2 separate regions of the Homo sapiens genome follow, and region 1 is linked to region 2. The links come from fine-mapping of genetic effects on gene expression. Tissue or cell type: atrial appendage. Region 2 holds a variant in brackets; the other region holds the start of a gene. All regions are shown on one strand. Distances are between the middles of the regions.

The links. PIP is the estimated chance that this variant, and not a neighbour inherited with it, causes the effect.
Region 1: it holds the start of FAM216B, and the variant in region 2 is the best candidate, but not a certain one, in a credible set for the expression of FAM216B in atrial appendage (GTEx, PIP 0.81).

The regions. Positions count from the first base shown.
Region 1 is chr13:42,779,527-42,783,989 of GRCh38, forward strand. It overlaps FAM216B (family with sequence similarity 216 member B), which reads left to right and starts at 2,058. Exons shown (of 4, transcript NM_001318932.2): 1 at 2,058-2,138.
Region 2 is chr13:42,717,797-42,722,929 of GRCh38, forward strand. LOC124903164 reads right to left here. Exons shown (of 3, transcript XM_047430822.1): 2 at 2,755-2,905. Among named protein-coding and RNA genes, the nearest start is that of FAM216B, 61 kb to the right of the region's middle. RefSeq lists an enhancer at 2,836-2,885. The variant G/A (reference allele first, on the strand shown) is at 2,860.

The sequences.
Region 1 (4,463 bases), 61 kb after region 2:
CACTTTATCACCCACCTTCTAAACAGCCAATGTCTTAAGCAGTGAGTCTCATTGCTGTACCAATATTTTAACTGTGAAATAGTACAACTTTTCTACTAATAGTTGACATTGTATTCCCTATAGTAATTAGATTATGGGTGTTTCTTTCCCATTTTTTTTGTAATCAGTTTAAATCCTTTTTGAAATGTTAAACTAGTCTTTGGGAAAACATTTTTTGTCCCAAACTTAGGATATGCATTACTCCCTCATTCTTATATTTTAAAATATGTCTACAAATTTAGATCTCATTCTTTGATACCATCTACATAGCTAGTTTTATCTTATTTCCTCTTTTCTTATAAATTGACAACTTTCAGTGATGTTAGGTAAACATTGACTGTATGTCTAAGTCCTTCATCCTCCTGCCTGACTTCATAGGTCCCAAAGGTACCTCTTAGATTTGTGTTTGTGTTAGAGAGTGTCCACCATCTGTCGGCCTCATGTTGATTCTTCTATACCCTTCTGTTTATCAGAGTAGTAGGAAGACTGCAAAATACATTTCCCAAAATCCCTTGCTAGCTGGCATCCAATGGAGGGCAGGACATGAATGAAGGCTGGAGGGAAGAAGCCATTTTTTAAAAATACTTTCTGCTTGCACCTGTGGCAGTGCCAGCAGCAGCAGCCACATGGACAGCAACAGTGGTGACAGCAACAGCAAGATTAGCAGTTTGGGCAAGAACATAGAAGCAAGGGTGCCTGGTGAGCACAGGTTCCTGAGGCGCTGCTCAGGCAGCAGTTCTCCAAAGGAAGCAGCCTCTATGGCACAGTGTCCATGGGCTGTGGGTAAAATCATTTTCCCTATTGTCCTCCAGCTCTATGTGCAATCACAGTTTAGTGCAATTGCCAGTCCTTGGATAACCTAACCCTTCTTGTTTTACTCCTCTAACCCATTTCTATATTTTCATAACAGATTCCTTACATTAAATGCCCTCTGTCAAACACAGATCTGTTACTGTTCTCCTGATTGAGTAGCGTCCAAGGCAAGCTGGTAGGAATTTCAGCATGTGTGTGCAACATCAGCAGATGCAGTGCACCCAGAATGAATTTCATCATATCCTGGAAAAACGTTTGAGGAAGACTCGATTGACAATGTCAACTCTGCACACCACTGTTCTTTATCTCTTGGTAAAGAATCATCAACCTCTCAGATCCAGTGAAAGATTTTATGTTATTTACTGGCATTTAAAGACACTTGTTTGTGCTGTGCTTATTTCCCAGGAGGTCTGCATTCAAATTACTGGGGAAAAAATGCAAGACTTTTGCATCTGTTGAGCCCTTTCTTCTTTAAGGCATATGATTCATCACTCTCATCTCCCTGCTTTTTTCTTCCCCTTAGTCTCCTAAGAATTTTGAATGTATTTTCTTTTGATATTTCTTCTTCCCTTTTCTTTAGGAACTCTTCATCTTTGCAGATAAGCTGGCATTCAGAAGGAGGACACTTGAGAAAGAAAGGAAGCCAGTAGAATAATGCTATCACAGAAGAAAGGATGAGGTCAGTGTGGGCTCTAGTCTTACGCCACAGGTTAATTATCATCATATGTAGCCTCTAATTAAGATAAAATATGGAGAATATCTTATTCCCCCACAAAATGAAAGGGAACTTAGCTTAAACTATGGAATAATTTCATAGGTTACCACAGGCAAATTCATGCCCATACCTCTATATTCAGGAACTCTTCCTTCATCATCCTGAGCAATGAGGAAGGGGACTACTGACTCCAAATTTTGGAAATATTTATGTCATGGCCCATTGCCCTGATGGATTTGTTGACCTTTAATATTTAGAATCTCTGCCTCTATGCATGTTACCCCCGATATCTGCATGTAACACAGATATGGTAGATTTAGAAGATGACACTTGATTAGACACAAAATGTGGAAGAAAAAATATCAAACTGTGTAGCTGAATGTTACCCAGAAGTGAAGAAAGGCATGCAGCCAGATTTCCCCAGCTCTTTGTTTCATCACATGATGTTGCTTGGATATCAGCTTATCAACAGACTTCCACCACCACCACCAGCATATAAACAGAGTCCGCGTAAGAAAACTACACTGAATAGGAATGGCAGCTTTTAAAAGTGGGGGAACTACAGTATAGGGTAAGTTCTTTTTAGGCAAATCTGTCTTTTTGTTTCAGATATATTATTTTGTAGATGTTTCTCTCCCTGAATTCCATGAGTATTTTAATCAAATTTTATCAGGTATAGGCCACTTGAATAGGTAAGATAAATTTATTCAGCAGTAGCCCCAGAAAAGCACACATGAATTGTTGCCATAAGAAAGAGCATCAGTCATTTCTTTATGCTATTTGAGGAGAGAAGAAATCTTTCCAGCTTGAAGCATATTTATTCTCTGTTCTACAGATCTGGAAAATGGGAGGAGGGATATTGAAATGATTTGAGTACAGGATAGAGCGTAGGTGTCAATCACAGAGAATATTACAGGAGTATATCTTGGTTGGTATGGTTTCTGGAGTGCACATTAAAGGAAAGCAGTACTGACTAAAATATTTACAGTTTAATTTAGACATTTATATAGCAGAAACAGTACACACAGAGATGTTGACTAATGTTTTCCTAATAAATTTCTCTTCTGGAAGAATGGAACCTTCGATGTGTGAACTCAAATCAGTCTCCACATGTATTACAATACTCCTTAAGCATGTGTATGTTTATGAACCTATGAGTGTGCATGTGTTTGTGTGCATGAACATGCGTGAAGGTCGGGTAGAGAGAGAAGAAACTGGCATAAAGTGAGAGCATTCTATATTCACGATTTCAGTGAATCAAACACCCAGTGAGGTAGGCATTGTAACTGCTGTCTTAAGGATGAGAGGGCTGAGGCTTACAGAAGGAAAGAAACTCAAGTCTTTCTAGTTCTAAAGGCCATACAGCCTCTATTACAGTTTATTTTCTTCAGTTAATATACGTGCAGGTATTAATAATAATCTACGTTTAGCAGATTGTTACTATGTTTGATTTGCTGTGGTCTTACTTTCTATCATTCAGTAATTCACACTGCTAACAAAGACAAAGGAGTAAGCAGAGGGGAAAATACTCTGGGTTTGCACTTTGTGATTTGGCAACCTATTCCAATATGTCTATTCTTGCTGGATTGTTAAATTCATATTATTATACACACTTCAGACTCTAAACCCTAAATCACCAGGAAAGGAGACTTAATCATAGCAAATGTGACTCTATTATTCTGTATCTTTCTCAGGCAAGTGGAAACATGACAAGTTTAATAGTTTTATAGTACAATGCTATAAAATTGCACATCTAAATTGCAAGAAGTGGAGAATGACGTAAAGGCATACTACACTGCCACTAAAAATCATATTTTTAAGGAATATTTAATGATCTGAGAAAGTGCACAAAATGTATAAATTATGATCTCCCTTTTCTAAAATTACACACAATGTACACAGAAAAAAAAAATAAATAAATAAAAGGAAAGTGAAGCTCAGCATGGTGCCTCATACCTGTAATCCCAGCACTTTGGGAGCCTGAGGTGCAGGATAACTTGAGCCCAGGAGTTTGAGACCAGCCCAGGGAACATAGGGAGATCTTATCTCTACTAACAATTTAAAAAATAATTGGGTGTGGGGTGTGTACCTGTAGTCCCAGCTACTCAGGAGGCTGAGGTGGGAGGATGGCTTGAGCCCAGGAGTTCAAGACTGCGGTGAGCTATAGTCGCACCACTGTGCTCCAGCCTGGATGATAGAGTGAGACTCTGTCTCAAAAAAACATATAAATAAATAAACAAATAAAAGGAAATCAACCAAATGCTAACAATAATTATGGATAGTTAGATGCAAGTTGAGTATGCCTTATCCAAAATGCTTGGGACCAGAAGTGTTTTGAATTCCAGATTTTTTTTTTTTGATTCTGGAAAATTTACATTATCTTTGCCAGTTGAGCCTCCCAAATTCAAAAATCCAAAATCCAATATGCTCCAATGAACATATCCTTTAAGCATCTTGTGGGCACTAAAAAAGTTTTGGATTTGGAGCTTTTCAGATTTTGGGCTTTTAGATTTGGGATGCTCAACTTGTATGAGTAATCTTATTTTCTTCTTCAATTTTTAAATTTTTCCAAATCTTCCAAAACAATATATATTACTTTTAGAATCAGATATGAAAATCAATATTATTTAAAATTATCAAAAAATTACTACTATAAAAATAGTATGCTCTACAACACACCTGTTCCAAACAGTTAGAAAGACAAGGGCTCTGAATTATTCCTTAACTTCACAAATAATTAATAATTATTTTTATATATAAAGGGTGAGAATAGGAAAATGTGTGGAATTAAGTAGTCTGGTGATGTCCAATTACTTGGAAATGTGAGCAAATGTTCTTATCCCTTAGAACAAATTACATTTTTAAAAATTCATTTACTTGCTTACTTATTTACTTA
Region 2 (5,133 bases):
AGAGTAGGACTGCTGGCATTGGCAGGATCGGCATCTTCTCAATGGTTTTCAAAGTATGTTCTCCACATCGACAACTTCATCCTCATCTGAGAAGCCCCTAGAAATTCAGATTCCTGGGCCTCATCCCAGAGCTGCTGGATCAGAAACTCTGGAGGGAGGCCCAGCACTATGTGTTAACAAACCCTCTGGGAGATGCTGATGTGTACAGAAGTTTGAAAAGCATTAGTCTGCAACAATTCAGCTTCAGCCACGAAATCACATTTGCCATTCAGAAAACCCAAAGTCTTACCCTACAAAGCCCATCTACCTACAAATCTTAGAAGATGACATGGCAAGCATTTATTGTTACTCAAGCATGTGCTTTGGGGACCCCACACTTTACCCCTACCTTTGCCTCTGCTACCACTACTACCATTAACTCTCCCTGAAAGGAATCTTGTTAAATACAAAATCTTTTCTATTCTGTTCCATTTCCAGTGATATTTTAATGTCCATGAGGTATTGGTATCCTGACCCTGCTGGCCTTTTCTGGTTCTATGTGACAAAGTGGCAACTCTACTGGGCTGTTTGGAAATCTTCTAGAGTGGTAGTGGGGAGGATAGGGAGGAAGGTTTTTCTGCTTACACATCTGTTGGCTGGTTTGTTCACCACTATTTCCCTAAAAGTAGTTATAATTATAAATTTTGTAGTATAGTTACTGCTGTTTGGGGAAAACCGGAGACTTAGATCATAGAATGTGATATGGTTAAAGGGTCAAGTTTTATGTAGATAATGTTTTCATTTTAGTTTATGCCAAAATAAAGATTTTAATAAATAAATAATAAAATAATAATTAAATAAGTAAAATAAATTCTTGACAGATTACATACTATACACTTGGAAGAAGAAGGAGGAGAAAGAAGAGGGCAAAAAGGGGAGAAAGAAGAGGAGATTACACATATAATGCTTTGGTTGGGCCAGGTACTATACTGAATACTTTACATCTATTGTCTCCTGTAATTCTCAAGACAAATTTCTAGGGTAGGGCTTATTATTCTCCCTATTTTACAGAGGAGAAAGTTGAGGTATTGAGAGATTAACAAACATGAGAAGGGTTCCATAGTCACATAATTACATAGCATTGAGGTGTGTGGTAGAGTAATGGGTGAGCTATAAGACCGGAATGATTAGTTGGGATCAGGTTGTAAGGAGAATTGACAGCTATGTAAGGAGTTTCTAGTTCAAATTATGAGAATGGTACACTGGAGAGACACCTTGGAGATACTTTGAAGATAAAATTGATCTGACTTAACAATCAGATGGTAAGAAATGGGGGGAGTCTTTAGCTGAAGCAACTGCGTCTGATGGTGTCACTCAAGGAACAAAGGAGGAACGAGTTTAAGGGCAGAAGGAGCCGATGTGTTTAGTTCAATTACACCAAGTTTTGGGTGCCTGTGGGACACATGCAGGTAGAAACTTCCAGTTGGAAATATAGCTGAGGCTCAGAAGCCAGGTTAAGTCAGGAAGTATAGACTTAACAGCCATCAGCAGAGTGATTAAAAAGTCTGGCCCTCTGCAACGATGGAAGTGGTGCTATCACCGGGAAGAAAATGTAGAACAGGAAGGGAAATGGATCTTGTGGGAAATGACTAAATGGAAGAGGTAGAGAAAGACAAAGCTTTGAAAATCATTATAAAATAGTGGCTAGAAGGTAGTAAGAAAATGAAAAGATGATAAAACTGAACATCAAGTGAGGTGATAATTTCCAGTGCCCCATCAAACCTATGACTGTGTTGGGCTCATGGAACCTTGAGCAATGGAAGTGACACTGAAGTCCAGGCATCCATCTGTGACCAAAAACACCCTGCCTAATTCTGTAAATATTCTGAGGTCCTTTTACTACCTATATTGTTACTCTTCATCGGCAAGGTGCTGACCAAAGTAATATTGTAGAGCTACAAAATAATAATTATTAACATATTCATCCTAAATGAGCTAACAGATAGCTAATCCAAAATAATTCTGTAGTGAGAAACCCGAATTATGCAATCTTTAAATTCTATTCTATTATATCGTGCAGTGACAAAAAATGGTGGTTAATGGAAAATTGTCAAGTGAGACTTGCTGGAGAGGGCTGCTTTGGCGGACAAGAAAGCAAGAAATATCTTTGCTTTTGCAAACAGACACCACTAGAAGATGTAAAGAATTTTTAGGTGCAGATTAAAGAGCCTCTTTGCAATCTCATTTACAGTTTTTCTTTACTTAGGAAATTCTTTTCCAAGGATAATTCAAAGACTTTAGCCTCATTTTAAAAAACCATAATTTTTTGTTGGTTAGCCCAGATTGATGAAGTCATATGAAATTTTCTGCCTCATTGTGCCTGTATGACATTTTTCCTACTCATTCCTTTTTTCCCCCCTTCCATAGCCTCCTCAATTCCTTCTTGCCACCCCTTCAGATTTAGACAGACCGTCTCTTCAATTCTGATGGCAACATTTCACACTAAATAACTATATACCCTAGCGTTGCCTCTCACACGTCCAGGTGATTGGCAGATACTTGTTTAGAGGATTGGAAACAGCTAAAAGTGACATTCAAGGATTCAAAAGCAGCTTGGTTGGGAAATAAATCTTTGGCTGGGAAAAATGACTCTCTTTGCCAGACAATAGCCTTATAATTTATCATTTATTGGAAAAGAAGGATGCATTTTGAGAATTGCATCAGACTAAAACTGATTACAGATATTAAGCAACGTCTCTATGAGCCATTACTCACCGCGTATGTGAGAGCTGAGTGCCTCTGGAAGGCGGGAGCTGATGAGTCACTGAGTGTGCTATTGCACCATCATAATTGTTAGCATCATAAACAATGGTATATGAC[G/A]GGGTAGAGCAGATTAAAGAGAATGAAGTGTCTTGTGCAGTTCCCTCTAGAAAGAAGAAACGAGACGTTATTTCACTGTGACGTTAACTATTGATTCAGGTTTTTGTTTGTTTGTAGCTCCTAGTGGTTATGATAACTCAGAAGCAGTATTCATGGCTTATTCATTTCGAAAGCCACCACAAGTGATGGTTTAAGCTGTTCCAACTTTGTGTTGTTGTTTTTGAAATAAAAGAAAGGCTTTTTCTTTTCAGTGTTAGGAAAAGGGAAGACATTCAAGAGAGCTGAACCAAGCGCTAAGTATCCTGAAGATCTAAGATCTAAGGACCCTGAAGACCTTAGATCTGGCTAAAAATTATACCAAGAAGCAAGTGCTGTTATAATCAGAGGGATAGGGCAACGCTGAGCAGTGAACTCACAGAGCACTCATCCATTCCTTTCTGACATTTGTCATTTTTTATCTATGTTGTATTTATTTAAGATCATGTTTTAGTTACATATTGTAACTAAAATATCTCAAAACAGAGATTGTGTATAGTATTTCTCAAAACAGAGATTGTGTATAGTATAGAAATACTATAAATATCTCAAAACAGAGATTGTGTCTTAAAAAGTTTTGCTCTCTCCTCAGAACCTAGCTCATTTAGTAACTTGTTATTGCTGAATAAAAACCAATTTATTGATAAATGAATGTCATGAGTCACTGTATTTATTACAACTCATCTCCATTTCCTTAATTCTGTGAAGATACAAAAGCTAGATTAGCCAGTGCTGCATAAGAGTAAACTAGGATGGTTCTCGGAATGGGCACGCGTAATTGTTTATATTTCTTTCTACCAGTCTTTAATTTATATTATTTAAAGAAGTGCTGATACTTAATAGCAAACGTATCTTTTGGAAAGAGTTTTACTTTAGATGAAAAAAGTACACCTTCTGGAGAAAACATTTTAATGTCATGCCTTTCAGGCACCCACACCTTCCTCTTCAGAATATGAGGCAGTAATTATGACTACATAATTCCCTCTGGGGAAGCTAATTAAATGTGGATATTTGCTAAGGAAAAATAGAGAGCCTATGAGTATAAACTCTGCAAATGCAAATATATAAAGGATCACAAATTCACACTAGTGCATTCTGTTAGACAAACATTTCTGCAAACAGCAAGGCTAGCCCTTGAAAAAAAACTGTGGAACAGCCAGAGGACAGCTTGAAGATCCCTAAAATCTTCTTTCTGGACACCTCCTCACTACACCATAATCATCTCTGGTTATACTTATGTTCTTTCTTAACTTTTCCATATTAAAAACCTGCTATATTATTATATAGTATTAACTAGTATGACAGTGACTTTCAGTAACAGTGGTTAAACAATCAGAAATTTATTTCTAGTCCAAAAGCCAAAACTGGAGCTGCAGCTCTGCTCTGTGAAGCTGTCAGGAGCCCAGGCTCCTTCTGCCTTGTTGCTGTGATATCCCTAGAGTGTTCTCATTATTGGTCTGTTGGTCTCATCAAAATGGCTCCCTACCCTATCGGCATTCCAGCTAGTGGGAAGGATGGAAAAGAGTTAGCAGAGGGAACTCGGAATTCTCCTTTTCTTTAAGAGCAGGACTTGCAAGCTTCACGCATCACTGACTTTCTTACTCCATTGGCTAGTCACATGATTTTCCTTAATAGAAATATCCTTTTAAATATAGATCTAAGCTCACAAAAATGGAAGGGAAATTCCTCATGGACAAGTTGAAAAATAAACTGTGCAAGCAGAGGGGTAAACAAAAGCAAAACTGTAAGAGCACTGTGGGCATTAGTGGACCTTGCTGTCAAGATACTTAAGAGCGACATGAAGGACAGGAGACAAGACCTAGGCCCATGCAATGTGAGTAGCTGGGAGTGACACTCCACATCCAGCTGGGAACCTGAAAGGGTTATAATCTTGATGAAGGCACGTACTAGAAAATGATCCACCTAGGCTCTAGATGCGGGGGGGTGGTGGGGAAGGCTTCATTGGACATTAGTAATAAAGGCTTTCCCTCAGATAGATCTGGGATTCAAATTCGTATTACCTACAAGATCCCAAGCCAAGATACCTAGTTCAAGGGGTGCTGGGTTGATAGGACCTTGTGACCACTTTAACCCTTTCTGGAGAGACCCACCCTCTATGCAGGCTTCACAAAATCTTCATAGATAAATTAAATGATTGTCAACCAAATACTTACCATATTAAATTTTCATTCAGACATGAGGGCAAAATAAAGATATTTTTAAACAAAAAAGTACAAG